Linked DNA regions of Homo sapiens. The protein of the gene in region 1 purifies or fractionates together with the protein of each later gene. This does not show direct contact. Each region holds a gene or a part of one and is shown in the gene's direction. Other genes may lie near its edges.

Region 1 (3,531 bases):
AGGGCATCAGTTTGTCCTGGGCAATTCCTAGTGAATTCACCAAGAACCAAAGGTCCAGACTCTTACTTTGGTTTCTCTTCTTTTTTTTTTTTGTTTTGAGACAGAGTCTCACTCTGTCACCCAGGCTGGAGTGCAATGCTGTGGTCTCAGCTCACCACAACCTTCGCCTCCCAGGTTCAAGCAATTCTCCCACCTCAGCCTCTGGAGTAGCTGGGACTACAGGCGCCCACCACCACGCCTGGCTAATTTCTGTATTTTTAGTAGAGATGGGGTTTCACTCTGTTGGGCAGGATGGTCTCAAACTCCTGACCTCGTGATCTGCCCGCCTAGGCCAACCAAAGTGCTGGGATTACAGGTGTGAGCCATCACGCACCACCTATACTTTGATTTTCTTATTCACATCTGTTGAATCAGCAACACTACTTTTATTTTACAAGCTTGAGAATGTGTTCTAGCAGTGTTACAAAACTTATTCATTGTTCTTTTAGCACAATGTAACTTTTTTTTTTTTTTTGAGATGGAGTCTTGCTCTGTCGCCCAGGCTGGAGTGCAGTGGCACGATCTCGACTCACTGCAAGCTCCGCCTCCCGGGTTCACGCCATTCTCCTGCCTCAGACTCCCGAGTAGCTGGGACTACAGGCGCCTGCCACCACACCCAGCTAATTTTTGTATTTTTAGTAGAGATGGGGTTTCACCTTGTTAGCCAGGATGGTCTGGATGTCCTGACCTCTTGATCCGCCCGCCTTGACCTCCCAAAGTGCTGGGATTACAGGTGTGAGCTACTGCATCCAGCCCCATGTTGCATTTCTAAATACAAAGAAAATGTCACCATGTACAACTAAGAGGAGGGTGGGAGTATTGTCCTCAAGGTTCTTCAGCTGTCCCTTTAGGAATAACCTCTTCAGCTTGGTGTGAGGGAAGGCTTCCTTCTGGCTAGAGAGCCTTTGTGTGAGGTTCAGAATTACTGCTGTGGTGCCTCTCTGGGGAAAGTCTCCTCTTCTTTGAATGGTCAGTGTGGTCTCTTGCTTCTGGGGAGAATAGTAGATATCCATGTTGTCCTCCTTATTTTGTGATGGGAGAGGGGAATGGGCATGACTGTCATCTCCTCTGTTCCCAGAACAGACCCAGGAAAGCATTCAGCATTTTGAGCGACAGGCAGGGCTGAGAGATGCTGGCTACACACCCCACAAGGGCCTCACCACCGAGGAGACCAAGTACCTTCGAGTGGCCGAAGCACTCCACGTAAGCTCTTAGGAACTTTGAAAAAACAAAACCTTCAGTGTTCATGGCTTGAAATGTGGCTGTGGTTTTGAAGTTACCAGCTCAGTTAGTTGGGGGCTGTGGAGTTAGTCTCGCTCCCGAGCTCTTAGCCTCGTAGTTTTTGCTTATCCACCTATACAGTGGGGTGTCTGTTTTGCTACTTCTGGTTAGCAGAATCAAGTGAGAGCCTCAGCTTACATATACATAGGAGTACTTTATGAATCATAAAGCAAATGTGGAGTATCTTGGGGAGAACTGGGCAGCCTCAACAGAGGTAACAGCTTAACTGGAAAGGAACAAGTTAAAATCAAATGTGGAATTGGAATGTTTTTGCTATTTCATTTCTATAAGTGAAGAATTTTGGTAAGGGTTAATTTAGTGATAGCCAAGTATTTGAATGAATAGTTTCAAATGACTTTCTTTCAGTGAAGACCGCTTCATACTGGATAGTGTTTTATGATTGTGAAGCACTTGCATTCATTTCATCCTCACAATCACCTTTTGGGACAGATGCTCTTCTCCATATTTTGTAAATGAGGAGATTGAGGTTCGAGGCCATCTATTCAGCCAGTCATAGTACCCGAACCCAAGTCTCCTGATGCCTTACTTCCTGTTGGCTTCTTCCTCCTCATTCCAAAGCAGCCTGGAAATCTGGCTCCTGAAGGGGCTCATATGGAAGTCAGGGGCAGATTGTGAAGAGACACAATTACAGTTAAGAAACTTGGGCTGTCTTCTTTAGGCAAGGGGGGGTCAGAATCCAGGCTTGTTCCAAGCTTTATTTTAAGAGTTCTGAACAGGGTATGATGAGGGCAAGGTGAGGAGAGCACACGACGCAGGAAAGAATCATGGTATACATTATACATAACGAGGAATAACCCGGATCTGGTGGCCTGTGGGTGGGGATATAAAACTGTGGATATAAAACTGTGGCCTGTTTGCAGTCACCCAGGCTGGAGTACAGTGTTGTGATCTCGGCTCACTGCAACCTCTGCCTCCCGGGTTCAAGTGATCCTCCCAACTCAGCCTCCCAAATAGCTAGGATTTACAGGCATGCGCCACCATGCCCAGCTGATTTTTAGTAGAGATGGGATTTCACCATGTTGGCCAGGCTGGTCTTGAACTCCTGACTTCATGTGATCCACCTGCCTTGGCCTCCCAAAGTGCTGGGATTACATGTATGAGCCACCGCACCCGGCCCTGTTTGCATTTTGTAATGAGCATTCCAGATGATTCTTTTGCAGGCTAGGTTTAAAAACTGCTATAGGAAATCAGGTTTGGGCTGGTGGCCAGTTTAAGCTTTCAAACAAGACAGAAGCTTCCAGAGAGGGGCACCGGCAGCCTTTGACCCTTAACTGAGAACTTTCCAGGATAGGTCAGTGAGAATTCTATTTGAGCAATTCACCTTATATAATGGTAGGATTGACTTTGGTTGACCCACTTTCTGTGTCTTGCCCATAGGAGTAGAACATGAGGATGGCTGAAATATTAGCTGTAACTTACATCTTGTAACAGATTGTCAACTTACATGAATGGATCTGTTGAGCGTTTGAGAAAATTCAAACGTGATCATTGTTTGGTGTGCAGCTTGGGTTAAGCAGTGGCGTGGCAGGCCTGGAGGGAGGAAACAGCATGGGAACCTTGCTCTAGAAGAGCTGAGATGTAGACCTGTCTCTCCCCACTAGACTGCGAGTCAGAGGAATGCTCACGGTGCTGAGGGAACCCAGAGTGGCTGACTATGGGAGAGAAGGAGGAGAGAATGGAACAGGCTCCTCAGAGGAAGCATTTAGCTGGAGAGAAGCAGCATGCCTGAGTATTGGCTTGGAGAGACTGAGGATGGGCAGGGCTTTGTACATGGTAGGAGCAGCAGCGAGACAAGAGCTTAAGCCCTGCTTAAAAGGCCAAGAAGGCTGGCAGCTAGCGTTCTGGCTCTTCCATTTTACTGTCTGGGGGAATGTGGGGAAATTACTTCACGTTTCTGAAAGTAAAAGTTGTAGTGTAAAGCTTTAAGTACAGGGATGTTCATGATATAGTGTAGAATGAACACATTTTTTAAGGAGATGGAGTTCCATCTAGTATGGCAAAAACAAAGGACTACCTGTTAGATCATCCGAAATCATTCCACCTGTAGATGTCTTCTGCCTAAAGTTAGAATGCGAACCAAATTTTTTATGCCTAGACTTATCTGTTTGGAATTTGCTTTCATTTTTAAAAAGTCTCTCTTCTTACCCATCTGAGCAGAAACTAAAGTTACAGAGTGGAGAGGTAACAAAA
Region 2 (3,930 bases), on another chromosome or scaffold:
TTCTTCTCTGGCACTTTGTCTCAACTCTTCCCATTTTCCCAGAAGTTTATCATTTGGAAAAATTCAAAATGCAAGCAGATTTCCTCGAAAGTGTTCTCTGGAGCATCGTTTATAATAAGGGATACTAAAAACCTAATGTTAATCTAATAAATAAAGCTATTAAATTATAGACTGCAAATGCATTAATGACAAGAGAAAATGTTGATTTTAAAAGTGAAAACAGATTATGAAATTATATATTTAGTATCATCTGAATTATTAAAGACAAAAAAGGGAGAGTAGAAAAGAAAGCCAAAATGTTAGCTTTTTTTTCCATTTACTGTTTTTAAAAAGTTTTCTATGGTTTTTAAAAAGTTTTCAAATTTTTACCACAGCAGGCATGATTTTTCTATAGCTTTAAGAGTTTATACATTGTAGTGGCTGTTAATAGCCAGACAGACTTAGTTGTGAACCATAGCTTTGGCATATACCAGCGGTGTGACTTTGAAAAAGCTACTCAACCTCTCTGAGCCTCAGGTGCTATCTCCATAAAATAAAAAGAAAAATAATAATTTTCCTATGCCCTTATAGAGTTGTTGTGAGGATTAAATAATGAAAAGGTAATGCATATAAACATTACTTACAATACCAGGAGCATAAGTTCTCAATAGATGTCTATTAAATATTCTTTTATTAGTATCATTATTAAAGTTCACATAGTTATAGTAATGCCCTTAGAGGAGTTCCTCCATTGTAGTAAACTGCTGGTGAGACAAAAACATGAAAACTCTATCCAAATCATACGTGCTGTTTATTTGTGTTTTCCAAGTTATCTAGTGGACATGGGTACTTTTATAGCCATAAAGAAAGTTGATTTAACTTTTCTATTAGAAATATTTTAAAGTCCGCCAGGCATGGTGGCTCATGCCTATAATCCCAGCACTTTGGAAAGCCGAGGCAGGCAAATCACTTGAGGTCAGGAGTTAGAGAACAGCCTGGCCAACATGGTGAAACCCCGTCTCCACTAAAAAAATATAAATATTTAAAAATATCAAATATATAAATAAAAATATTAAAGTACAAAAGTTGGCTGGGCATGTTAGTGCAAACCTATAATCGCAGCTACTTGGGTAGCTGAGGTACCAGAATCGCTTGAACCAGGGAGATGGAGTTTGCTTGAGCTGAGATTGCACCACTTCACTCCAGCCTGGGTGATAAAGAGTGAGACTGTGTCTCAAAAAAAAAAAATTTTTTTAAAGTCCACCAAAAGCTTTATAAAACAGCTTGCCATTTGTAACTTCTTTGAACAGTGGAATGTGGTGTCAGCTGTCTTAACTGTGCTTTGAGAACATTTCATATTGAGGCTTGTTATGTCACTACTTCTAGTGTGAATTAGGAAGGAAAATTCAGCAGTTGCTTTTCAGTGGATGCCTCATAAACTCTCAGGACCAGACTTTTAATACTTGTTCAGGAGTAAGAAACCTGAGGCCTAAAAGCTTGCTGAGGGTTATTCTGCTGGTTTGTGGCAGAGTTGCCACTAAGACCTAAATCTGTTTTTTGTTTTGTTTGGTTTTTTTTTTTTTTGAGACAGAGTCTCGCCTGTCGCCCAGGCTGGATTGCAGTGGCCCGATCTTGGCTCAGTGCAACCTCCACCTTCCTAGTTCAAGTGATTGTCCTGCCTCAGCCTCCTGAGTAGTTGGGACTACAGGCGCATGCAGCCATACCCGGTTACTTTTTGTATTTTTAGTAGAGATGGGGTTTCACCATGTTGGACAGGCTGGTCTCACCCTGGCCTCAGGCAATCCACCCACCGTGGCCTCCCAAAGTGCTGATATTACAGGCGTGAGCCACTGTGCCTTGCCCGTAAATCTCTTTTTCTGTCTCCTTTACTCACTATACCAGGCATCACAGATTCAGATGACTCGAAGGTCAGGCAGGTAGCTGAAGAGGGTCAGGTAGCTCAATAGTCGTAGCACCATGGCAGTCTGGAAAGGCTTGCCTCCGTTTAGCCTTAGTTAAGAGGCACGTAGTCTAAGTGTTGCCAAAATGTCCAGTTTTTAAAAAGAATCTGGAAATCCACATTTTATGTAAAAATTCGGTGGAATTTTGAACATTGGCATTCAGTTTACATTTTCTGAAAATGCTGTGTGGACCAAGGAAACTATATCCGTAGGTCTTGGGCAGCCCTGGGCCCCACAGGCCATCATGCTATCTGTCTCTTTTATTAGTTTATCTATGTAGAATGTATTCTGAAACATCTTGGCATTCCCTCAAATTATAATGGACCAACTTTTTTTTTCCATTTAACTAACAATGAGGCTTTGCTATATCCTAAGTACTTCATTTTATTCTGGTAGTAAAAAATATTTGAAAATAGCTAGCTTGGAAAAATATATCATCCTTTTCATTTAATTCAGCTGCTTTGCCGCTTGTCTTCAATTGGAAAGTTTAGTTGAAAACAGGTGAGTCTGAATAAGCCCAGCTCATAGGGGAGATAGGGGACAAATAAGATTAACTAGGGGTAAGGGATGTTGCATCTGAGGTCCAGAGTACTGAGGGAGTTTAGGAAAAGGTTTTGGAGAGGAGGTGGCACTTAAGGTGTCTCTAGAGGGAAACAGTCTTAAGTTCCACAAGAACAGAGCAATAGAACATATGGGGAAGTCGGTGTGTCTGGATAATATTAATAGTAAGCTAAGGGGCCCTGAAGGAAGCCTTGCTGGCAAGCCTGGAAATGGAGGCTTGGAGTATTTGATTTGATAAGCAGTGAAAAGGGAGTGATACAGCCTGTATACCTTCCCCAGTGCTGAGATTTTTCTGATACTGTGATGCCTGTTCAAATAAAGCAAGTGCATCTTTTGCTGGTACTTGATGTTTTTGTTCTAAGAGCTTCAGTTATCATTATGAAAATGAACTTTTTGAGGGCTGGAATGAAGAAATTATAGGTGTTTAGTAAATGAACTGAAAATGAAAGAGCATGAGTGAAAAGTAAATGAGAAGTAGATTGACTCAGAATGCCAACATTGACCTGAAAGAAGGTAGGGTACCAGCAGTTTGGATGGGGTGATACTTTTTTTTTTTTTTAAATTTCTGCGATACATGTGCAGAACATGCAGGTTTGTTACATAGGTATACACGTGCCATGGTGGTTTGCTGCACCCATCAACCCGTCATCTACATTAGGTATTTCTCCTAATGCTATCCCTTCCCTAATCTCCCACTCCCTGACAGGCCCTGGTGTGTGATGTTCCCTTCCCTGTGTCCATGTGTTTTCATTGTTCAACTCCCACTTATGAATGAGAACATGCAGCATTTGGTTTTCTGTTCCTGTGTTAGTTTGCTGAAAATGATGGTTTCCAGCTTCATCCATGTCCCTGCAAAGGACATGAGTGCATCCTTTTTCTATGGCTGCATAGTGTTCCATGGTGTATCTGTGCCACATTTTCTTCATCCAGTCTATCACTGATGGGCATTTGAGTTGGTTTCAAGTCTTTGCTATTGTGAATAGTGCTGCAGTAAACATGCATATGCATGTGTCTTTATAGTAGAATGATTTATAATCCTTTGGGTATATACCCAGTAATGGGATTGCTGGGCCAAATGGTATTTCTCTTTCTAGATCCTTGAGGAATCACCACACTGTCTTCCACAATGGTTGAACTAATTTGCACTCCTACAAACAGTGTGAAAGTGTTCCTGTTTCTCCACATCCTCTCCAGCATCTGTTGTTTCCTGACCTTTTAATGATCGCCACTCTAACTGGCATGAGATGGTATCTCATTTTGGTTTTGATTTGCATTTCTCTAATGACTAGTAATGATGAGCTTCTTTTCGTATGTTTGTTGGCCACATAAATGTCTTCTTTTGAGAAGTGTCTGTTCATATCCCTCGCCCACTTTTTGATGGGGTTGTTTTTTTCTTCAAATTTATTTAAGTTCCTTGTAGATTCTGGAT
Region 3 (4,555 bases), on another chromosome or scaffold:
TCTACTTTTCTAGATTTCAGCCGGCATCCTGGCTGTTTAAAAGTGTACCTGAATCATTCACACCAACAATAACACAACGACACACTCTCCGGTGTGTTCCAAGTGTCCTGGCTGTGGCATGGTCTCAAAAAACTGCAGCTGACTGCACATGAGTGATTAGATAACACCTTGAACCCACCCTAAGATAGTCTGCCTTTCCCTTCTTTCCTGTCTTCCTTCTTTTCTTTCTCCCTCTCTCTCTTCTCCTATTTCTCTTTTATCTTTCCTTTCCTTTATCCCCCTCCCCTCCTTTCCTCTTTTTCCCTCCCTTCTCTCTCTTTCCACACACACATAACCTGTATATGCCAGGCACTATTCTAGGTGCTTCACAAATATTAATTCATTCCATTCTTATATCAACTTTGTGAAGTAGGAACTATTATCATCAACATTATACAGAGAAGGAAGCTGAGGTAGAGAAAGTTTAAGTAACTTGTCCAAGGTTGAGCATCTTGTCAACGTCATTTTACTACTGGCATGTGAAACAGGTGAGTTATATTTTTTAGAATATTAATTCTCATTAATTGAAGCCTTCCAAACAGGCCTAACTGTCCCCTTCTCTGACATACAAGTGGAAGTGTCATAGCTGGACGGAGCATCATGGTATGAAGGCAGAAAGGACGCGACTGGGTGTTCTTCTGAAGCTCAGGGAGCAGCTCTTGGGGAGAAAGTGTTTCCAGGAAGCGGACAAGAGTTCTGTTGAGCTGAAGAGCAGGGCAGCAGCCGGGGCGAGCGAGGCTGGAGTCATGCAGGGCAGAGCCTTAAATGCTAAGCTGGGGTTTGCTCTCGGTAGGACCAGCTAGCTGCCCCGAGCGGGGGCTGGAACCAGATCTCCCCCACGTGGACTCGCGGACAGGGCGGGGATCAGGACGGGGGCGGGGCCAGGGGAGGGGCGGGGCTCGGGGAGTGAGGCAAGACTGGAGGGCCTGGGACTCTCGGGTACCCGGGCCAGGGGAGGGGCGGGGCTCAGGGAGGGAGGGAGAGACTGGATGACCTGGGGCTTGCAAGGCGGGGCGAGGGGAGGGGCGGGGCGAGGGGAGGGGCGGGGCTCAGGGAGGGAGGGTGAGACTGTGGAGGACCTGGGGCTCGCGGGGTCGGGGCAAGGGGAGGGGCGGGGCTCAGGGAGGGAGGAGAGACTGGAGGACCTGAGGCCCACGGGGGCGGGGCCAGGGGCGGGGCGGGGCTCTGGAAGGGCGGGCGAGACTGTGGAGGACCTGGAGCTGGCGGGGGTCAGGGTAGGGGGGAGGGGCAGGGCTCGGGGTTCGGGGGCGGGGTGTTCACGGTGAGACCAAAAGTCAGGTAGGAGCCTCCGGGGTCCCTGCTGTGTCACCCGGACAGGCCGTGGGGGCGGGCAGGGGGGCGGGGCCGGGCCTGACCACAGCGGCCGAGTTCAGTCCTGCTCTCCGCACGCCACCTTAGGCCCGCAGCCGTGCCGGGTGCTCTTCAGCATGTCCTTCATCCCGGTGGCCGAGGATTCCGACTTCCCCATCCACAACCTGCCCTACGGCGTCTTCTCGACCAGAGGCGACGTGAGCAGTGGGGCTTTGGCGTCCGGGCGCGGGGAGGGAGTGGAGTGGAGTGGAGTGGAGTGGAGTGGAGTGGAGTGGAATGGAGTGGAATGAGGGGCGGGATGGAGGCTTGTGCCATTTTTCTCTTAAGATTCGTTCCGTGAGAGTGCCTATGGGCTCGAGTCCCGCCTCGTAACTTTCTAGCTGTGCACGTTGTTTAACTTTTCAGCCTCATTGTCCGCAGGTTTGCTGAGAATTAAATGCAAAATGAAATGAATCGTGTCACTCTCCCAGACAAGCAGAGCAAGCAGGATTCTGTTACCGGAAGCTGCAGCACACAGGCATGCTGCCTACTCCGAGGTGGTTGCGGTGTGTTTCTCTCGCCCAAGAGGCCAGGTCAGGGCTGGTGGTTCATCTCGCTGGATAGCCCCTAACCCTAGAACCCGGGAAATGATAACCCGGTATGCGTAGCAGGTCAGAGGGGCACGCGCGTTTCTTGGCTTAGAGTTGTGAGATCTAAGATGGCAAGTGTCTCTGCCTATAGCTGAAATTCTTTCAGCTCCTGGTGTGGGCTCCCTGGCATTCCCCTACTGATCAGAAGAAAGAGGGCAGGGAAACAAACTTTGACTAAGTCAGTGTAGTCTGATTGGTAGAAAGAAGTATTTGAAAACTGGGGGTTTATCAGCAAATAGATAATAAGAGGTTCCCTAGGTTGGAAAAGCAGATTCCCTTGGATTTGTTGATGATATTTTTGGCTTAGATTTCTGCTCCCAACTTTAAAGGTAAACTCCTGATTCATCTCTGTAAGCCATAGAACCCCAGAATCAGGAAATGTTTGCTAAACGAGGGGCCTGGCAGTTGGCTTCTTCTTGGAAAGTGGGGTTCCCTCCTTCCCCCATGGCTTGTCATTGGATGCAAGTGGCTGGCCTTTTGTGGGCCTGTCTGCGGTAAGTGCTTTGGTCTAGAAGAGTCAACTTGTGGTTTCACATCTGGCCGGGCTGACCAGATGTTGCAAGGATACAGAAAGTGGACACTCAATCCCCTGGAGGACACAATCTGAGGCACATTAAATCTTAACTTGTGATGGCCAACAACCTTTCTGCAGACAGAGCCCTCCCTCTGCCCTCCTCAAACACTTTGCCCTCGGCAGATGTGTCCTCCCTCACCTTTCCTGGGAGCACAAATCCATTAGACAGAAACATTTGTGAGAGGCAGGCACACCCCAGTAGGGAGCTCTGACTTGCTTTCTCAGGGGAATCGAATTAATATCCGTTAGAGTGTGGCTAGGTGTTTTCAGACACCATGTCCCGCTGTTTCAACATCAGAATGTGCAGGGCAGCCACTACAGATGTCTGGAAGAGAGAGCCCCATTCCGCTGTCCTCTGATACAGTGCTGGGGGTGGAGAGTTGGCCCTTTGGCCTTCCAGCTGAACAAGCCTCTTCTGAAGCTTTCTCTGCAGGCATTGGACATTCCAACCGTGATGGCTGCCTTGCCAGGCAAGACTAGTTGCCAAGGCAAAACCTCCCTTCCCCCATGTCAGCAGTCAGCCTTTCCTAATTTGAGTGGAATAACAATGAATCCTGCCATCACTTTATTCATTTTTTTTTATTCAGCGAATGCTTATGAACCCCAACTCTGGTCCAGATTTTGCCTGGGCTCCGAGTTGGCATCAAAGACACAGGAGACGCCTTCCTTCCATTTCTGGTTGATGGACTAGTAAGGTGTACAGGGGTGCTCTCTGTGAAGGTAGGGGTGGTGGCCTCTGAGAACGGGGTTGTAGTAGTGTGGAGCTGGTTTTGCCGGGTGCCTTGTTAAAGTCCCCGTGGTCTGGCTGTGCTGCTGCCTCCTGGCCTCTGCTTTCTCCAGCCACATTGGCTGCCTTTGAGTCTCTGAGATGTGCTAAGAGCAGCTTCCTGCCTTCAGGCCTTAGCACATGTTGTTCCTTCTGCCTGGAATACTCGTCCTTCTGCTCTCTATATGCTTGGCCCCTTCTCACTCTTTGGGACTCAGCTTAAATGTCACCTCCTAAGCACCCTCTCTGAATGAGCTCCCCGCTGCGGCCCAGCCTTGGTTATCTCTCACCACACCCTGTGTTTCCTTTTGCTTCTGGAGAGAAGGAACCACGTCACTGTTCCCAGGGCCTCAGCAGCCTTTGTGTAATGCTGGTACTGAGAAGATGCTCTCTAAATCTTTGTGGCATGAATAGCGTCTACCCTGTGTCTGTTCTTGTGGTGAGAGATTTACAGATATTAATTAAATTCTCACAATAAACCTACTGTGAAGTTATTGTCCCCATTCTACAGATGAGGAAACTGAGGTCCAGAGAGGCAAAGCATCATGCTCCAGATCTCACAGCCAGTAAGAGGCAGATATGGGGTTGATCCCCACATCTGTCAGCCTCCCAATCTGTAAGGTCCAGCCCTACGGGGCTTAGCGGGTTTTCTCCCTGTGTGCGGAAACGAGAGATTGTAAGAAATAAAGACACAAGACAAAGAGATAAAGAGAGAACAGCTGGGCCCGGGGCACTGCTACCACTGAGACACAGAGACCGGTAGTGGCCCCGAATGGCTGGGCACACTGATATTTATTGCACACAAGACAAGGGGGGCAGGGTAGGGAGGGTGAGTCATCCAAGTGATTGATAAGGTCAAGCAAGTCATGTGATCATGGGACGGGGGCTCTTCCCTCTAAGGTAGCCGAAGCAGAGAGGGAAGGCAGCATAAGTCAGCATTTTCTTCTATGCACTTATAAGAAAGATCAAAGACTTTAAGACTTTCGCTATTTCTTCTACCGCTATCTACTACAAACTTCAAAGAGGAACCAGGAGTACAGGAGGAACATGAAAGTGGACAAGGAGCGTGACCATTGAAGCACAGCACCACAGGGAGGGGTTTAGGCCTCCAGATGACTGCGGGCAGGCCTGGATAATATCCAGCCTCCTACAGGAAGCTGGTGGAGCAGAGTGTTCCCTGACTCCTCCAAGGAAAGGGAGACTCCCTTTTGCGGT
Region 4 (3,928 bases), on another chromosome or scaffold:
TTGTCTCAAAAAATAAAATAATAAAATAAATGAAATAAGATAAAATAAAAATACAGTACTTTGATAAGGAAAGGTAACTGTCAGAAAGGTGCGATTCCCCCAGTCCTCACTTAGGAGAGAGACCAACAGCCTGAGTTAACCAAGTCCTTTGTAGCCCACAGCAACAGGGAGCTAGGGACTGAGTCAGGCTCTCTGTAACTGTCCCTATTTGCCCTGGGTCCCCAGGAGGGTAATGTTATTAAGCTTCAGGTATCTGTCGCTGTTCTTCTTGAGGCCACAAGGAGGCAGCACAGTGTCTCTGTCAGGAAAATACACTTGGATGTGGTGACAGACGTTTTCCCGAGGCTTACGTTTGATTCTGCACCAGGCGCTGCGTACACCTGCTTGGAGGCTGCAACGGGGCGGGCTCTGCTGCGTCAGCACATGGACATCACTGGAGAGGAAAACCCACTCAACAAGCTCCGCGTGAAGATTGAACCAGGTCCAGGAGGCTCCTCTGTCTGACACCCACTCCCCTCAATTGAGCTTGGAGCCCCAAGTTAATGCGAACTTCATGTTGATCAGTGCACGCTTAGAATACTTTATTTGGAGGGAGGGGCACTCCAGAGCTCTTTGTAGCCAATTCTCTGGCCCCTGGGCTGACTGAACCCAAGCCATTGCAGCCAGATAGGAGTTCTGTCCAGTCTGTGCGGTTCGTGATGACTTCACCATTGCTTTGCATTTGCACAAGTCCATATCGTTTTACCAGGCTCTTTCGCATTCCTTCATGATCATCAGGGCAGATCTGTGGATTCTGTAGAATAAAAGCATTAGCCTTATTTTACAGAGGATGGGACTGAGTGCCAGACAAGTTAAGTGTCTTGTCCAGGTCATGTACCTAATCAGTGCATGACTGCAACTGAGATCCGGGTCCTCTCTCCAAATTCAGATCTTTTTACTTCCTAACATTTTCCTTCATTCCATGTGTGACTAATCTGAAACCTTTTTATGCAATTGAAGCTCATGTTCCTTGATGCCGTTAAGTTTGCAGATGAATTTCTTAGAGACGGGTAATTAGTTTTAGCCTGGAACAGCTGTAAAAACAACACATTGGCTGGGCATGGTGGTTCACGCCTGTAATCCCAGGTCAAAGCGGGTGGATCATGAGGTCAAGAGTTCGAGACCAGCCTAGCCAATATGGAGAACCCTGTCTCTACTAAAAATACAAAAATTAGCTGGGTGTGGTGATGCACACCTGTAATCCCAGCTACTGGGGAGGCTGAGGCAGGAGAATCGCTCGACCCCAGGAGGCAGAGGTTGCAGTGAGCTGAGATCGTGCCACTGCACTCCAGCCTGGGTGATAGAGCAAGACTCCGTCTTAAAAAAAAAAAAAAAAAAACATTGATCTGGGAGGGTAGGTTGAGTATTTAGGTGGTGACCAATAGGGATGGAAAAGACACAGCTTGGTGCTCAGTGGGAAATGCTGATGGAACCTACCCACACAAAGTGTATCCTGGGACTAAGGAAATGTGTCCGCTCCTCTGGAAGGCTGGTTTCTCTGTCTTCATATTAGATCCACAGTGAATGGCCCTCTGAGATCTTGGAAGTACCTTGAGAGAGGCCAATATCTGGAGAGAGATCTTGGCCTTGAGATAGAGATCTTAAGAGAGAGAGTCTTGGCCTTGAGAGAGTCCAAGATCTGGAGAGAGGCCAGGATCTGGACACCTTCTTGGCCTTGCTGTCCCTGGGGAAGCTGAATTCTGATCTCTTCCATCGCTAGTCTTTGACTGTGGAGCTAGAGAAGAACGTTACGGGTGACAGGCTACAAAAGCTCAAATCTTGTCTGCTTTCTCCTCTGCCAGGCGTTGACCCGGACGACACCTATAATGAGACCCCCTACGAGAAAGGTTTCTGCTTTGTTTCATACCTGGCCCACTTGGTGGGTGATCAGGATCAGTTTGACAGTTTTCTCAAGGTATAGTCACATGAGGGGAGAAGGAAGAGGAGCGGATAAAGCCACTGGGCCTGATCAAGGGTAGAGGCAGGGGGCGAAAGATGTAAGGGGTTGGAGGAGGACCCAGGACACAGAGGGACACCACTCCCCACGGGGCCAGAGAGGGTCTAAAGAGCTTTCCCTCCTCACAGGCCTATGTGCATGAATTCAAATTCCGAAGCATCTTAGCCGATGACTTTCTGGACTTCTACTTGGAATATTTCCCTGAGCTTAAGAAAAAGAGAGTGGATATCATTCCAGGTAAGCAGAGGAACTGGCCCACAGGCTTCTAAAAAATAGTAGAGAATGAGATCTCATTGACACTCGGAAAGATGGTGGTGGATGGGAAAACACTGGGTCAGAGTCAGCTAGGTAGGGGCGTTTTGGGAAGCAAACCCAGAATCCTGGGATTTATTCCACAAGAATGACTTCTTTTCACTCCTCTCTGCCTCATTTTCTCCCAGTCTGTTTCCTTACTCTCTCCTCTCACCTGGACACACAGTCAGACCCTTAACTTGCCTGGAGAGCTGCCACTGCTGCCGCACCACTGCCCCAAGCTAAAACTCACAGGGCAGGAGCGGAGGCAGCACCCCTCCTACAGCCTTCTGAGTGAAGGCAACCCCAGTGGCCCTCCTTATTTCTTTCTTTCTTTTCTTTTCTTTTTTTTTTTTTTTGAGATGGAGTTTCGCTCTTGTTGCCCAGGCTGGAGTGCAATGGCACGATCTCGGCTCACCGCAACCTCCGCCTGCCGGGTTCAAGCGATTCTCCTGCCTCAGCCTCCCGAGTAGCTGGGATTACAGGCACGCGCCACCACGCCCGGCTATTTTGTATTTTTAGTAGAGACGGGGTTTCTCCATGTTGGTCAGGCTGGTCTCGAACTCCTGACCTCAGGTGATCCACCTGCCTCGGCCTCCCAAAGTGCTGGGATTACAGGCGTGAGCCGCTGTGCCCAGCCGCCAGTTTCTGCCTGGGAGGTACCACTTCCAAAGAAAAAACGAAAAATGTCCTGTCATGGAAGACACAATCCATTAGACATACCCCCACTTCTTGCTGTGACCTGAACCTTGAGTCACTCTATTGTTGGTTTGATGAAGTCCGCGTCCTCTGACAGTAGGATTGGTCAGGACTTTAGCAGCACCTACTGTTCGGTTGGAGGCTTGCATTTTAATGCGGGGACTCCGGAGCTAATGGTAGTTAATAATTCCAGAGTACTTACTATGCATCAGGCGATACGCTAAGCTTTTAATGTTTATTTGCTCATGTAATCCTCATAACCATCACGGAGGCAGGGCCTATCACCCCCACTTTATAGATAAAACTGAGGTGCAGAGAGGTGAAGTAACATGCCCGTGGCCTCCCAGCTGGTTAATGACAGAGCAGGGGTAGGAACCCAGGCAGCCTGGTCCTAGAGCCTGGGTGCTTAAGTACAGTGTGGTTGTGATCGGTAGGAGAATGTGCACGTGAATAGAGCATCCACCAACTTGGCTCTGACAACACAGTGCTAATTTGGAGCGAAAAGCACTTTCACGGTCGAAACGGCACAGTCTCTAGATGTCGTTATAACTAGGACCCTGCTGGAGCGAATAGTTACATGGGAAAGTAATGTTAAATGCTGGGGAAAGAGTTTGGGATGGAGAGAGGAGAAACTTGAGGTCTCTGGGAGTTGCTTAAACCAGTTGACCGTAACCTGGCCAGAGAATTCTGATAGTGTCTTCTCTCCTCCCAAACAGGTTTTGAGTTTGATCGATGGCTGAATACCCCCGGCTGGCCCCCGTACCTCCCTGATCTCTCCCCTGGGGACTCACTCATGAAGCCTGCTGAAGAGCTAGCCCAACTGTGGGCAGCCGAGGAGCTGGACATGAAGGCCATTGAAGCCGTGGCCATCTCTCCCTGGAAGACCTACCAGCTGGTCTACTTCCTGGATAAGATCCTCCAGAAATCCCCTCTCCCTCCTGG
Region 5 (3,930 bases), on another chromosome or scaffold:
TACCAGAATTGGAAAGATCCATGTTAACTCTTGCCTGATTCTATCTCCCATGTCAGCAGGAAGAGGGGCTGCCATCCCCACCCCTCCCACTCTCTAGGAAGACTTTCCTCCCTCACCCTTCCCTTGGGGTGTTTTAGGTGCCCTTTATCTGTAAGTTCATAATATCCCAGGCTTACAGTAATTCTTCCAAGGCCTTTATTGTGCTATAATTATTTATTCATGAAAGCCTTCCCCTATGAACTTCTAAAGAATAATCGTATTATCTTTATTTCCCCAACTCTTAGTACAAATCCTGGCAACTAAATGAAAGAACAAACAACCTGGGGTTCTGGGATGGTTCGTCTTTGCTGATGGCACTGTGTTCCAAAATGGCCAAGGTCAAATATAAAAATTTCAGACTGAGGTAGACACTGCTGGCAGCCTACACATTGCCACCACACCCCACTTCCTTCTTCCTAGTGGCAAGGAAGCAGTGGGTGGAGAGGGTGAGTTCCTGTCAGGGAGACTTGTCAGTCTGAGCAGAAAATGTTCAAAGTGAGATATGACTTTGGGGATGGAGACAAAGGGAGGATGGAGAGAAACGACTGGACTGAGAGAAGAGCCCACTCCCCTTTATGTAAATTGGCTTTGCCAACCTGGTCTGCAGCTGGAGAAAGGCCATGCGCCTCTATTACCAGCCAGTGGGGCTTCCGCCTTAGGAGGGTCTTAGAAAAGTGTTTTTCCTTAATGAAAGGAGATACTGTGCAGTAAATAGCCCTGCTGTTGTTTTCTTTTCTTTTGATAGAATGTCAAACTTACGAAAAAAGTTACAAGAAGAGAACAAAGAGCTATTAGAGGGTGTTGCTGACACAATGCTTTATCACTCTTGAATATTTTCGTGTGTAATTCCTACAAATAAGGACATTCTCCCACATAGCCACAATACAACCATCAAAATCAGGAAGTTAACGCTGATGTGTTTCTACCATGTAATCCTCAGATCCAATTCAAGTGTCACCAGCTGTCCCAATAATGTCTTTTATAACAAAAACATTCAGTCTAAGATCACTCATTCTATTTAGTTATCTTGTCTATTCTTCAATTTGGAAGTGTTCTTTGTTCTTTCCTGAATGTTCATGACCTTGACATCTTAGAAGATTAAAGGTTATTTAAAGTTGTTGAGTTAAATATCCATTAAATTAGGTTTGTCAGATATTTCCTCGAAATTAGATTCAGCTTATGCATTTTTTGGAAGGAATACCACAGAAGTGATGTTGTTTTCTTTCTGTTGCATCCAATCAGATGATACAGGATTTTGATTTGTTCCATTACTGTTGACATGAATTTTGAACATTTGATAATGCCAGTATCAGCCAGATTTTTCCATTGTAAAGTCATTCCTTTGTCCTTTGTATTTAATAAGTATGTTTAGGGACTTTGAGACTATGTCAATGTCCTGTTCTTCATCAAAATTCCACTCACTCATTCTTAGTATTCATTGACGTTTACTGATCGAACTAATTATTATTATGATAGTTGCCAAATGTTGGTTTTTCTAATTCAATCATTTCTTTAGTGTTTATTAGCATTCTACTATAAGGAAAAGCACTATCTTCTCCCCATTTATTAATTCACATATTTACATCAGCTTGGAGTTATTGATTTCTATTTTATTAAATAGTTTATAATTGATTACCATCCTTATTTATTTTAATGCTCAAATTGTCCCAAATTATGGCCAAAGAAAGCTCCTTCAAACTGGTTGCTATGTCCTTTTGACATGGCCCATCATTCTTTAAACACATTTTACATCTGGCACAATAACGTGCTACATACCCATCTTGTATTTTTCCTGCCCCATCTTTGAAATCAGCCATTCTCAAGGGGTTCCTTCTTAATCTGGCTGTTGTTGTGTTGGAACTCCTGGTACCATCTTAGAACCTTAAGGAGACAAGCGAACCAAGCCAATAAGCTTTCCATGATGCTGCTTAGAGTTAAACAGAGCCCAGGTACTAAGTTATGTCATGGAGACAGTGAACTAACCTCTGGACTGCTTGCTACATGAGACAATTGATTTTCTTATTTTCTATGTAGGGTGGTACATTTCCTCATTTTGAGATATTTCTTCAACATATAGCTTTTCATTAGTGGGGATTTTGTCAATTATAACCAAAAACAATGTGACGGATACCCAAGATGTTTCATGTTGTAGCTTGGGTGAATTACACATTTCTGAAGCCATTACACTTCCTAGTTTATTTGGATTTAAGTTGACAAATAAAAATTGCATATGTTTATGGTCTATAACATGGTGTTTCGATATATGTATACATCGTGGAATGGCTAAATCAAGCTAACATATCCATTACCTCACATAGTTATTTTTTGTGGTGAGAACATTTTAAAAATATTGTCTTAGCAATTTTCAATCAAGCCTGTCCCATGGAGACACAAGCAATAGTGACATGAGCACTTGACTCGCTGGGTTATCAGGCTTTGGCTCCAAATGTTTGGCTTCAAATATGAAAAAGTTACATGAAAGATGAAACTATGCAATGGCATGGCTGTTGGTCATTCACATCTCTCTCTGCCAAGAATGGGGATGACGCTGTTGAAGGAAGAAATGTGTTTTCTCCTTTTTCTCAAGTGATATTTGCCTTAGGTCAGATTCTACTAGTTTAAAGCAAAACGATCTCCTGGTCTGATTCCTTTGGGTCTCTAATAATGGAAACTGCAAGGATCAGCATAAAGTGTTCCTTTGTTCTGACGTTGGTATAACATTGCTTCTTGAAAAATGAAAGTATTTGGACATACAGACAGAAGCAATATTATTCAGGTCTTCCTTGTTGCAAGTGAGGGAAATCCAATTAAAACTGGTTTAAACCTAAAAAAAAAAAAAAGAAGAAAAGAAAAGAAAAAATATGAGAGGGGTTTTGCTTTCTGGAATCTGCTTTCTAGTCAGAAAGTGCAGAAGAAGGGCTAGCTTCAGGAACAATTGGATGCAGTAGTTCAAATCACAAGTTAAGTCTCTGCTTCTTTTCTCCATCTCTCTTCTGTCTTCCTCCACACTGGCTTTATTCTTAGGTAGGCTTACCCAGATAGTCATAAACACAGCCACCAGTGGCAGCTGGGCTCACTTTTGTCCTTGGAGCCAGTGAGCCCATGAAAAAGGAGCTTCTCTTTCTGGAGCTTCCCAGGGGTAACTTTGATCAGCCAACAAGGGTCAGTCCTATGCTTATCCCTTGACCAATCTCTGTGCCCAGAGGGCAGGGTACTCTGATTGGCAATACCTTCATCGTGGGCCAACCACTGTGGGGAAGGGGGAGGGATTAGAAAAGACAGCCACACCCAAATCTCATGAAGCAGTCCCCTTTATTTTAAAAAAGTCCCTGTGAGAGCAACAGGAGCAAAGCATGGAGAAGAAGCAATCTTGGAGAAGCTGGAAGAGAACTGACCCAAAGAATCCAAGAGACTAAGACTGTGCAGGGTTGGGGAACGGAAGCTCACACAGGAGGCCTGGACAGAGCTGCAGCAGAGCCAGGAGAGAAGCCAAGTGGCACAGCTCATCTTGAAGTAATTATAATGCCACTAAAATTCTCATTTGTATTAATTTTTTTTAATTACTGGCAAGATAAGGCAAATGTTTTTAAAGGCCTAAATAAAATGATATTCCCTGAAGGAAATGTCCAGAGGGTTTTATTTTGGCCTTATTTTTTTTAATTCTATGAAAGATGATGGAGACTTACTAAACTGTTTTTATGGGGAAAGTTTAATAAATGTGAAGGATGTACTTCCATGAGTTCAAATATGGAAAGTTTTAAAATAGAAGAGTGACACAAGCAGCTAATGATCCCAACATGTTAGAGTATGCAGGCTGCTGGCCCAGATTCCGGTTTTTAATCAAATATATAAATTATGAAATATTGTTACAAGGAATCGCAAGCCTTTGCC
Region 6 (4,150 bases), on another chromosome or scaffold:
GAGATGACTTATGCCCTCCAGTGCTACTTATAAATGGTAGTTTTCCCTTCCTTCTTTCAAGGACTTTCCACCCACCTGTCTCATTTAAGCACAAAGGGCAGGGCTGGCTCAGGACTAAGTTGTCTCCTAAACCCTTTTTGAGAGTATATCAATGACATATGTCCTAGTTTGTTCCCCATCAGGAATTCTAATTGCTGGTATCCAACAGCATTAGCAATATCAGTGTGTAAAGGAAAAACAACTGGTGATGAGGGATGGGAGGGAGTACAGCATCTGGGCAGGAGGAGCATTAGAGGAGCTGGAGCCACGGATGAAAGAAACAAGATTTGCAGAATTGACAGCTCCATAGTAGTAAATGTGGAGCTCAGTCTTGAGGGAGTTAACTCTCATGAAGGAGAAGTGCAGGCTGTAGTCCCAGTGACAGTGACTAGCATCCACTGCCATCCCACTCAGGATGAGGGTAATGTGTGGGCAGAAGTATGGAAGGAGTTTTTGTGAGAGAAGCAAACAATGTGAGAGGGAAAGTTGTGTACCTTTTGGGGGCTGTTGCACTGCTTTGCTGCCTAAGTCCCTATATAGTATTTTAAACTCTTTTTTATACCATCCACTCAACTAGTTGTTTTTGAGACTTTGGGGACAATTAAACCTTTCTGTACAACGTTTAGGGATCTTTGATCTAGAACAAGAAGGACTAAGATCGAGGCTGGGTGGCCCTGGAGCAATGCCCAGAAACCTGGATGGGAATGGAGTGACGAGTCCCTGGGGAGGAGTACAGGTGCTTATCTGAAAGTCAGAACTCTTGAATTCTAGACCTGCTTCTGACCTTAGAAAAGCAGATTACCATTTTTGAGTACAGAGAATAAAGAGCAACTTTTACCTTCTGTGGTTTTTATGAGGTTAATTAAAAACATAGGCATACTTAACAATTATAATTCTGGTCTTGAATTTCTCATTCCTATCTATCTCACCCTTATTGTCCCTTCTTCCGGATATTGGTTTGCTTTTGAGGAATACCAATACATTTTCACTCTAGCCCAAGCTACACCTATTTGGGGCGGTAAGAGTGTCTTTTTTTTTTTTTTTTTTGAGACCAAGTTTTACTCTTGTTGCCCAGGCTGGAGTGTAATGGTGCGATCTCGATCTCAGCTGACTGCAACCTCCGCCTCCCGGGTTCAAGTGATTCTCCTGCCTCAGCCTCCCGAGTAGCTGGGATTACAGGCATGCGCCACGACACCCGGCTAATTTTGCATTTTTAGTAGAGACAGGGTTTCACCATGTTGGTCAGGCTGGTCTCAAACTCCCAACCTCAGGTGATCCGCCCGCCTCGGCCGCCCAAAGTGCTGGGATTACAGGTGTGAGCCACCGCGCCTGGCCCAGGTGTCATATTTTTAAGCAAAGGTTATTTTGCCTGCTGTTTGGGACTGCCTGTGCTGTTAGGCCTTCCTGCTCCCATGGCTCAGAAGTTGAGCTTTCATTTCACATGGGCCCGAAGTTGCTTTCTCTAGGATCAGCCACCCAGACTTGAATCTTCCATCCCCTTGTCTCCTTTCCCCACAGGACCCTTTTGGAGAGAAGCGGGGCCACTTTGACTACCAGTCCCTCTTGATGCGCCTGGGACTGATACGTCAGAAAGTGCTGGAGAGGCTCCATAATGAGAATGCAGAAATGGACTCTGATAGCAGTTCATCTGGGACAGAGACAGACCTTCATGGGAGCCTGAGGGTTTAGACCCTGCTCCCATCTCCCCTTCCCCCACTCAAGAGTCCCAGCAGAATCCCTTCCCCCCACCCCAGGGATGGAGAGGCACTGTGTATCTCCCTCCAGACTCGAAGTCATCCTGCAAGATGGCAAGAACCAAGCAAGCTCCGATCCCAGGGTGTGGGAGTGGGGGCCTGTTCCCGGTCTGACCTCCTTGGCACTGGAGCATCTGGGGCTTCGTTCATCCATTCATCCCGTATCAGGGGCCAAGGTACCTTTACAGGAGCACCTAGAGCGAGGGCCTTTGGCAAAAACAAAACAACCAACACACCTCTCCACAGGGCCAGCTCCTTAGGGATAAGTGGAAGATGGAAATTGCAATTCCAAGAGGGAGTGTGCCCAAATGATTTATGGGGATACCTGGAAGGGAGCTTGGGGTGGGGGCTGTCTGTGACACTTAAGCAGTCTGGGTGGTTGTCTATTTGTCTGTCTTCAGTCTTGAAGCAGGGCTTCCCAATGCCCTTTTCCTCCCTGCCTTCCTTCCCCCATTATTTCCCACAGGCCAGCATAATTTTGTTTTTCCTAATTTATAGTCACTGTTCTAGACAGACCAAAGAGAAGGAACAGTGGTGGAGTCTAGGCTGCTGATCAGTAAGCTTTACCTAGCACCTGAGCACCTTTCTCCCCTCCCCTCTTTCCTCACCCTTTTCTAGATGTAAGACAGAAAGTAAATGTGACTGGGACTTAACCAAGGTCTTGGTAAAGCCTGCATGGCACCGTAAGAAGCTGAAAATACTGTTTGTTCCCGCAATCACTGATTTGAAAAGTTCCCAACACAGGCAGCTGCTGTGTATATGGGATTAGAGCCACTACATAGAATAGTCTCTTACAGATTTTCATAAATACTAGTCACAATAAGGGTATTTTTCTTGGGGGTGGAGTAAGGGGGAGACTGATGCTAGTCCTTGTTGTATTTTGTTGGGCTGTCCTTGTGTATTTTCACCCCAGCCTGTAGTCCTCCTCACTTCAACCCCAGGGATTTTTGGGGAGCAAGGGTAGCCAATGGCAGAGGGGGTTGGGGCTGGGACTCTGGAGGCTCCTCCCCTTCTTTCTCTTCCTTCCGCCTCCCCCGTGCCCCCAGCTGCTCTTGTCACTGTCTCTGATGGGTATTTGCCTGGCTTTGTTGCTTCTCTATCTGTATTTAGCTGCAGTGATCCTTTAGCTGGTTGGCTCAGAAAAAAAAAAATGTGCTTTAGGTGCCCTGTAATCCTGGGCATCAAGGGAATCCATCCTTCCCCTTTTTGATATGTTCTCCCCGTACTTCCAGATTTATTGTTATGGCTCCCAGTGGGTATTGGCGATTCTTGTGATGCAGGGCCTCAGTCAGTGTCCAGCCATGCATAAGGGAGAGGATAGTGTGTACCTGCCCTGCCCTCTGCTATGAAGGTCTCTGCCTTGTGGATCATGGGACTCCCCTTGGAGGATCTGTGCAAAGGGGGGCTGGGCACAAAGGAGAATGTCCTATTTGGGAGGGCAGGAAGCAAAGGAACTGGACAGGGATTGGTGGGCTTGGGGAACGGAAGTTTATCTTGGATACCCTTGAAGAGGCTGGGTCTCTTCACATGAAGATCGAAAAGGGACCCTGCTTCCAATTTCCCTCTTCCATTCCTCGAGCTACTCCAGGGCTTAGAAGAATGCTCTTGGTCTGTGGGTCCAGTGTTGTCTGTCATCCATTTAAGTGTTCCCACTTTCAAGTGACAATCCTCTCCTTGGCCCTGCCATAGGGCAGAGCATGTCTGGCATAGCAGCCTGACTTTTATGCCCTAATCTTGAGTTGAGGAAATATATGCACAGGAGTCAAAGAGATGTCTTTATATCTGACTGTATATAAATGAAGTTTTTTTGTTTTTTTTGTTTTCCTTTTTGGTGCAATAAAGTTTGTTTTGGCAGAAGGAGGAAGTGCCTGTGGGTGTGGGAGGGCTTGTGTAAAGGACGAATGGGATCATCTTGTCAACCACACCTCACCTAGGCCTGGAACTGTTAGGGAGAAGGAAAGTGCCATGAATTGTCTGGAAACCGAAGACTTGCATAACATGGTGGAAGGGCAGGGCTGGGTGGGGAGAGCAGGACAAGTTTTCTCATTGGAAATGGGGTCCATGCTCTGGCAGTCAGTGACATCTTAGTTTGAGTGGTTTCCAAAGACAGACCTATTCCAGAGCTTGGAGTGAGCATGTCCTACAAGGATAGGCAGAGGAAGAGATGGGCCCAGGCTATATCCTGCTAAAGGAAGGGTCTCAGTATGGAAAAACCATTGAGTTTTCAGATTTCCAGTACTAAACTAGCACTTTTAGGATCTTAGCCTTTAGACCATAAGGACTTTGGGAGCCTTAAACAACTCTGGCCTCTTCCCTCATCACCACTTCTACTTGCTATAGGAGATTCTTGCTTTCTG
Region 7 (4,661 bases), on another chromosome or scaffold:
ACCTTTTACAGGAAATGCGCAGTCTATTTCTGGGCAGTGTGAGGTGTATCAGAATATATATAGTATTCTGGAAATCAGGGAAGAAGTTGCAGCTGACACTGTCTGGATGAACTTCAATTGCTAAAAAATCAGGGAAGAGGATGCTGGGAAGACAAGAGTAGGCGGCATTTGACCTGGATTTTGAAAGATGAGTAGGAAACTGATGTGTACTTTGGAGGCTGTTGAAGAAAACCAGAGCCAAACAGTAGTTGAAGTGGTAAAAACATTTTATTCAGGAACTAGTGCAACAGGAGCGAGACCTCAGAATAGATACAGAACTAAGCTCAATTCTCTTATTGCATTAGTTTCTTAATACCTTTTTTTTTTTTTTTAATCATTGGCCCTGGTTTTCTTTAAGTGGGGGAGGTGGTGATTCAGGACATTTCAGATACAGACAAAAGAATGAACAAAGCAAAAAGGAGTAAAGAAACTTAGAGAAAAAGTAAATAATCCAAAGAAAGTTGAGTAGTCAAGGAAAACAAATTATTTGTAGCCAGAGCCTCCAGTAATGTTGGGGAAGTGGCAAGAGATGAGGGACGGTAGGACTTTTTTAATAATTCAAGTTACCAAAAGTGAAGTTATCTGGTGATATTTAGAAAATGAAATGTTTTTCTGTTTATTCCTAGGAGCTCAAATGGGAAAGGTAAGTGAACAAGTGGCTGGAATGCTATGCCAACAAGTTTGGATTTTATCCTGCAGCGCCAACTGGGAGTTCTCCGAGAGCTGTATGGTATTTTACAAAGGGACTGTAGTCTTTATAGGTGATAGGCTGGAGCAGCTCGTAGCAGTCCCTCTCCTGGCCTCAGTTTACTCGCTGGTAACACGAATCCGGTTGGACCAGATGCCCTCTTAGGTCCCGTCTAACCTCTATGGCATGCTTCCGAGGTACCTCTGCCTCTTTCCAATACCAGGACCTGTGCCTCATCTCGTCCTTCCTTCATACCTTTGTCCAGCTGCCACCTTCCCTAGTCCCTGGCCTGCCTCAGGTACTTTCAATCAGGAAGTGAGGGGCGGGGAGGGAGGGAGGCGCGTCTCCAGTAAAAACAAACTAGTCCCAGCTCCGCCGCCTTTCCTCCCAGGCAGCACCACCTGGGTGGTGCCCCGGGGCCAGACGCGCTCTAGAGTGGGCAGGGAGCCAAGTTTCTCGGTCGCTTTTCCGTCCTAGGTCTCTGGGGTGGTAGGCCGACCCTCCCCACAGCCAAGCCATCTCGGGGAGCAGAGCAGGAGCCCGTGCCTCGCGCGTTCCTGGTTCCTCAGACACAAAAGCCTCTAAGTCCCGGCAGCAGCCACCGGATTTCATGGGGACACTCCAGTGGCAGGGCCTCGGGGCGGGCCTGAGACGGCCAATCGGCTTCTAAAGAAGTCGGGTTGTAGGGCCCGAAGAGCAGGGTTTCGGCCGGGGCCGGGGCCGGGGCGGTGCGGGATGCTCGGCTGGGTAGCGTCCCGGGCGCGCGCTGCACCGGGTCACGTGAGGCGGCCGGGGCCACGTGACCCGGCGGGCCCGGCGCCCTGGCGCTCCTCCTCTTCGCTGCCGGTGGGCACCGCCGCTCGCTCGCACTTCTGCGCCCATTGGAGCTTCGGAGATCCCTGCGGTCCCGCGGGACGGCGCGGCAGCAGCTGACCTCGCAGGTAGCGTGTGGGCGCGGGGTCGAGCTCGCGGAGGCCTCTTCCCCCTCGGCCCTGCCCCTGCTTCCCTTCCCCGCAGGCCGGGCCGGGAGTGCCCCGTTACTCCTGTACCTCCCGCCTCCCTCGCTCGGGCTCCCGGGCAGTCCCTGCGGGCGCTGCGTCCGGGGCGAGGGATGGGGTCCCCGGCCCGGCCCCGCCAGCACCTCAGCTAATGTGCTCTCCTGCGAGGAGGAGGGAAGGATGGGGAGAGGCGAGGGAAAGTTTTCCCTGCCTCCCTCTCTTTTTTGAGGTGCACGGACTCGATTTTGCTCGTAGCTGAAGTCTGACTGCTGTGGGTGCCGTTTTACTGAGAGGAGATCTCCCCTCCGACTCTTCCTATTCTCTCTCCTTTCCAAGATCTTAGCATCTCTCCTTCGTCTCCTGAGAGTAGTGCTGTCACAAACCGTATTCTTTATCGTTTCCCTTTCCGACACAGAATCCACAAAGGCAGGGATTTTGTTAGTGAGGACTTTTATCCAGGCGTGCGGTGAACTCTAAATAAGTGACGTTTCCCTTGTCTGCCTCTGATAAAGTACCTACCTGCTCGGTTTAAGATGACTATCGAGCACGCTGTGTTCTGCTCGCATAAGTGGCCTTTTGTTTTTATTTATTTGCATGTAAGACACTTTCAAGCCATCTGCGGAACTCTGCAGCTGGGGATTACAATTTTATAAAGCAGTCTTGTAATAATGCTTTTAGAAAACCAGATTCATGATCTTCCTTGCTTTTGCCCTATTCTTTTTTTGGGAGGACTAAAAGCCCTTAGAGGACAAAAACTGAGTTTCTGAAACTGGTGTGTATTGTGGGCTAATAACATTAAAACATCAAAGTATATAATGCCGGAAGGAATGGAAAAATGATTGAATCCTGAGGGCAGTTTATAGGTGCTTTAAACTTTAGAGTACTCATTTCAAGTGAGCACTGGGTGAATTTCACCCGTTTAAACTGCTTTCAGGGTCGAGGATGTAACTGTATATTTGGATTCTATTAATATAACAGTTCATCTGTGGGATGGACTTTAATCCATTTAATCCATTGTGTGAATATCAGTCTATTTATTAATACTCTAGACGGGTCCTTTTTCTTCTACCCGCTAGTCTGTTTCTCTTGAAGAGGAAGCATATTCATCTTTAAAGAGATTTTTGCAAGTGATTTTTTTAAGTGTGTGATCCAAATGATAAAGTTCTGTGAACTTCAGAAAACAAGTAGCCATAAAAACCCAAAGCTGTCAAGCTTGTAGCTTTTAAAAAATGATTTGAAAATTTTAAAGCGTGCCCGTATGCTGCAGCAAGAACTTGGCTCCACCTAATATACGGGAGCTGGGAAGTCTGAAACAGTACCCTCCTTTTCCTGGGAGTCATTGTGGGGTAGATGAAACTGTGAAGGAAAGTGAGGACCTTTATTATGATGATGATATCCCTTCTGTGTGTACTACATTAAACAGTAAGTCATGCATAGGAAAGGAGGCTGGGGCCTCACAGAGTCTAGAATCTAGGCAGGGCATTCGGACACATTTCAAAATATTCTCTGGTTTTACAAAAAGTTAAAAATGTTACATATTGGCCAGGCGCAGTGGCTTACATCTGTAATCCCAGCATTTTGGGAGATTGAGGCGACAGATTACACGAGGCCAGGAGTTCAAGACCAGCTTGGCCAACATGGTGAAACCCCGTCTCTACTAAAAATACAAAAAATTAGCTGGGCGTGGTGGTGTGCGCCTGTAGTCCCAGCTACTCAGGAGGCTGAGGTACGAGAATTACCTGACCTGGGGAGGCAGAGGTTGCAGTGAGCCGAGATTGTGCCACTGCACTCCAGCCTGGGCGACACAGTGAGACTCCATCTCAAAAAAAAAAAGTACATGTTGTGTACGTGCTGAAGAATGCACAAGAGGGGTATGATGAGTGTTGTCTGAATTTAGCCAGAATAGACTTAGTAGAGGAGATCAGTTAATGAAATAATTATATAAGTCAACTGTGTGTTAGATCACATTTAAAACACACACACACACACACACACACACATACACAAAAGCACACTTCTTTCCTGGGGTAGAAAAGCTCACAGAGGAGACCAGATGGGTACCTCTAAAGACTTACGGTCTCCAGCTTTCTCTGGGCTTGGTCTTACCATCCTGCTAGGTTTCTCTGCTCAGTGCTCTTTCCCATCCTCCCTGGTGACTGCTTCAGACTTCACCATTTTACCCCCAATTGCTCCACTCCACTTTTTTCTTTTTGAGACAGGGTCTCACTATGTCGCCCAGTCTGGAGTACAGTGTGCCATGTGATCATAGCTCACTGCAGCCTCAAACTCCCAGGCTCAAGTGATCCTCCCCACTCCCAAGTAGCTGGGACCACAGGTGCGCACCACCACATTCGACTAATTTTTTTATTTTTTGTAGAGACAGGGTCTCCCTATGTTGCCCAGGCTGGTCTTGAACACCTAGCCTCAAGCAGTCCTCCCGCCTTGGCCTCCCAAAATGTTGGGATTACAGGCGTGAGCAACCACACCCGGCCTCCACTCCACTGTTTATTGCTACCTCCCCTCTTACTCTTAGCAAAAAGCCTAACTCTTTCTTCATAGGGGAAAAATAGGTGACCTCAGAAGAGAATGGTCTCCAAATGCCAATCAAAACCATGAGATACCACCTCCCATCCACTAGGATGGGTATAATACAAAAGACAGTAAATACTGGAGAAAGCAGCACTGTTGTACATTGCCGGTGGGCATGTAAAATGGAGACTCAGCGGGGAGAGAGAATGAGAATGAGAGAATGAGTATGTCTCCAGCATCTGGATTCCTAACCTTTAAACTGGCTTTCATTCACATTCACCCTTTCCTCCTCCTCTTGTGGAAGGAAGAAAAGGAAGACTTGCTCCTTTCTACAGTTTCTCTTGCATTTATTTATTTATTTATTTATTTAGAGACAGAATTTTGCTTTTGTTGCCCAGGCTGGAGTG

The links.
Region 2: the proteins of KIAA1191 (region 1) and FBXO22 purify together in Homo sapiens (co-immunoprecipitation; one large-scale study listed by IntAct). This does not show direct contact.
Region 3: the proteins of KIAA1191 (region 1) and FAH purify together in Homo sapiens (co-immunoprecipitation; one large-scale study listed by IntAct). This does not show direct contact.
Region 4: the proteins of KIAA1191 (region 1) and RNPEP purify together in Homo sapiens (co-immunoprecipitation; one large-scale study listed by IntAct). This does not show direct contact.
Region 5: the proteins of KIAA1191 (region 1) and LMCD1 purify together in Homo sapiens (co-immunoprecipitation; one large-scale study listed by IntAct). This does not show direct contact.
Region 6: the proteins of KIAA1191 (region 1) and UBE2Z purify together in Homo sapiens (co-immunoprecipitation; one large-scale study listed by IntAct). This does not show direct contact.
Region 7: the proteins of KIAA1191 (region 1) and RCBTB1 purify together in Homo sapiens (co-immunoprecipitation; one large-scale study listed by IntAct). This does not show direct contact.

The regions. Positions count from the first base shown.
Region 1 is NC_000005.10:176,348,324-176,351,854, reverse strand, and holds part of KIAA1191 (putative monooxygenase p33MONOX), read left to right. Parts: intron 1-1,117; coding exon 1,118-1,242; intron 1,243-3,498; coding exon 3,499-3,531. UniProt on the Homo sapiens protein: Potential NADPH-dependent oxidoreductase. May be involved in the regulation of neuronal survival, differentiation and axonal outgrowth.
Region 2 is NC_000015.10:75,906,729-75,910,658, forward strand, and holds part of FBXO22 (F-box only protein 22), read left to right. Parts: intron 1-3,930. UniProt on the Homo sapiens protein: Substrate-recognition component of the SCF (SKP1-CUL1-F-box protein)-type E3 ubiquitin ligase complex that is implicated in the control of various cellular processes such as cell cycle control, transcriptional regulation, DNA damage repair, and apoptosis.
Region 3 is NC_000015.10:80,151,568-80,156,122, forward strand, and holds the start of FAH (fumarylacetoacetase), read left to right. Parts: upstream 1-1,431; 5' UTR 1,432-1,487; coding exon 1,488-1,568; intron 1,569-4,555.
Region 4 is NC_000001.11:201,999,535-202,003,462, forward strand, and holds part of RNPEP (aminopeptidase B), read left to right. Parts: intron 1-367; coding exon 368-481; intron 482-516; exon of another isoform or gene 517-793; intron 794-1,841; coding exon 1,842-1,954; intron 1,955-2,124; coding exon 2,125-2,233; intron 2,234-3,589; exon of another isoform or gene 3,590-3,702; coding exon 3,703-3,927; intron 3,928-3,928. UniProt on the Homo sapiens protein: Exopeptidase which selectively removes arginine and/or lysine residues from the N-terminus of several peptide substrates including Arg(0)-Leu-enkephalin, Arg(0)-Met-enkephalin and Arg(-1)-Lys(0)-somatostatin-14.
Region 5 is NC_000003.12:8,571,012-8,574,941, forward strand, and holds the end of LMCD1 (LIM and cysteine-rich domains protein 1), read left to right. Parts: 3' UTR 1-3,657; downstream 3,658-3,930. UniProt on the Homo sapiens protein: Transcriptional cofactor that restricts GATA6 function by inhibiting DNA-binding, resulting in repression of GATA6 transcriptional activation of downstream target genes. Represses GATA6-mediated trans activation of lung- and cardiac tissue-specific promoters.
Region 6 is NC_000017.11:48,925,407-48,929,556, forward strand, and holds the end of UBE2Z (ubiquitin-conjugating enzyme E2 Z), read left to right. Parts: intron 1-1,557; coding exon 1,558-1,728; 3' UTR 1,729-3,650; downstream 3,651-4,150. UniProt on the Homo sapiens protein: Catalyzes the covalent attachment of ubiquitin to other proteins. Specific substrate for UBA6, not charged with ubiquitin by UBE1. May be involved in apoptosis regulation.
Region 7 is NC_000013.11:49,582,451-49,587,111, reverse strand, and holds the start of RCBTB1 (RCC1 and BTB domain-containing protein 1), read left to right. Parts: upstream 1-1,553; 5' UTR 1,554-1,668; intron 1,669-4,661. UniProt on the Homo sapiens protein: May be involved in cell cycle regulation by chromatin remodeling.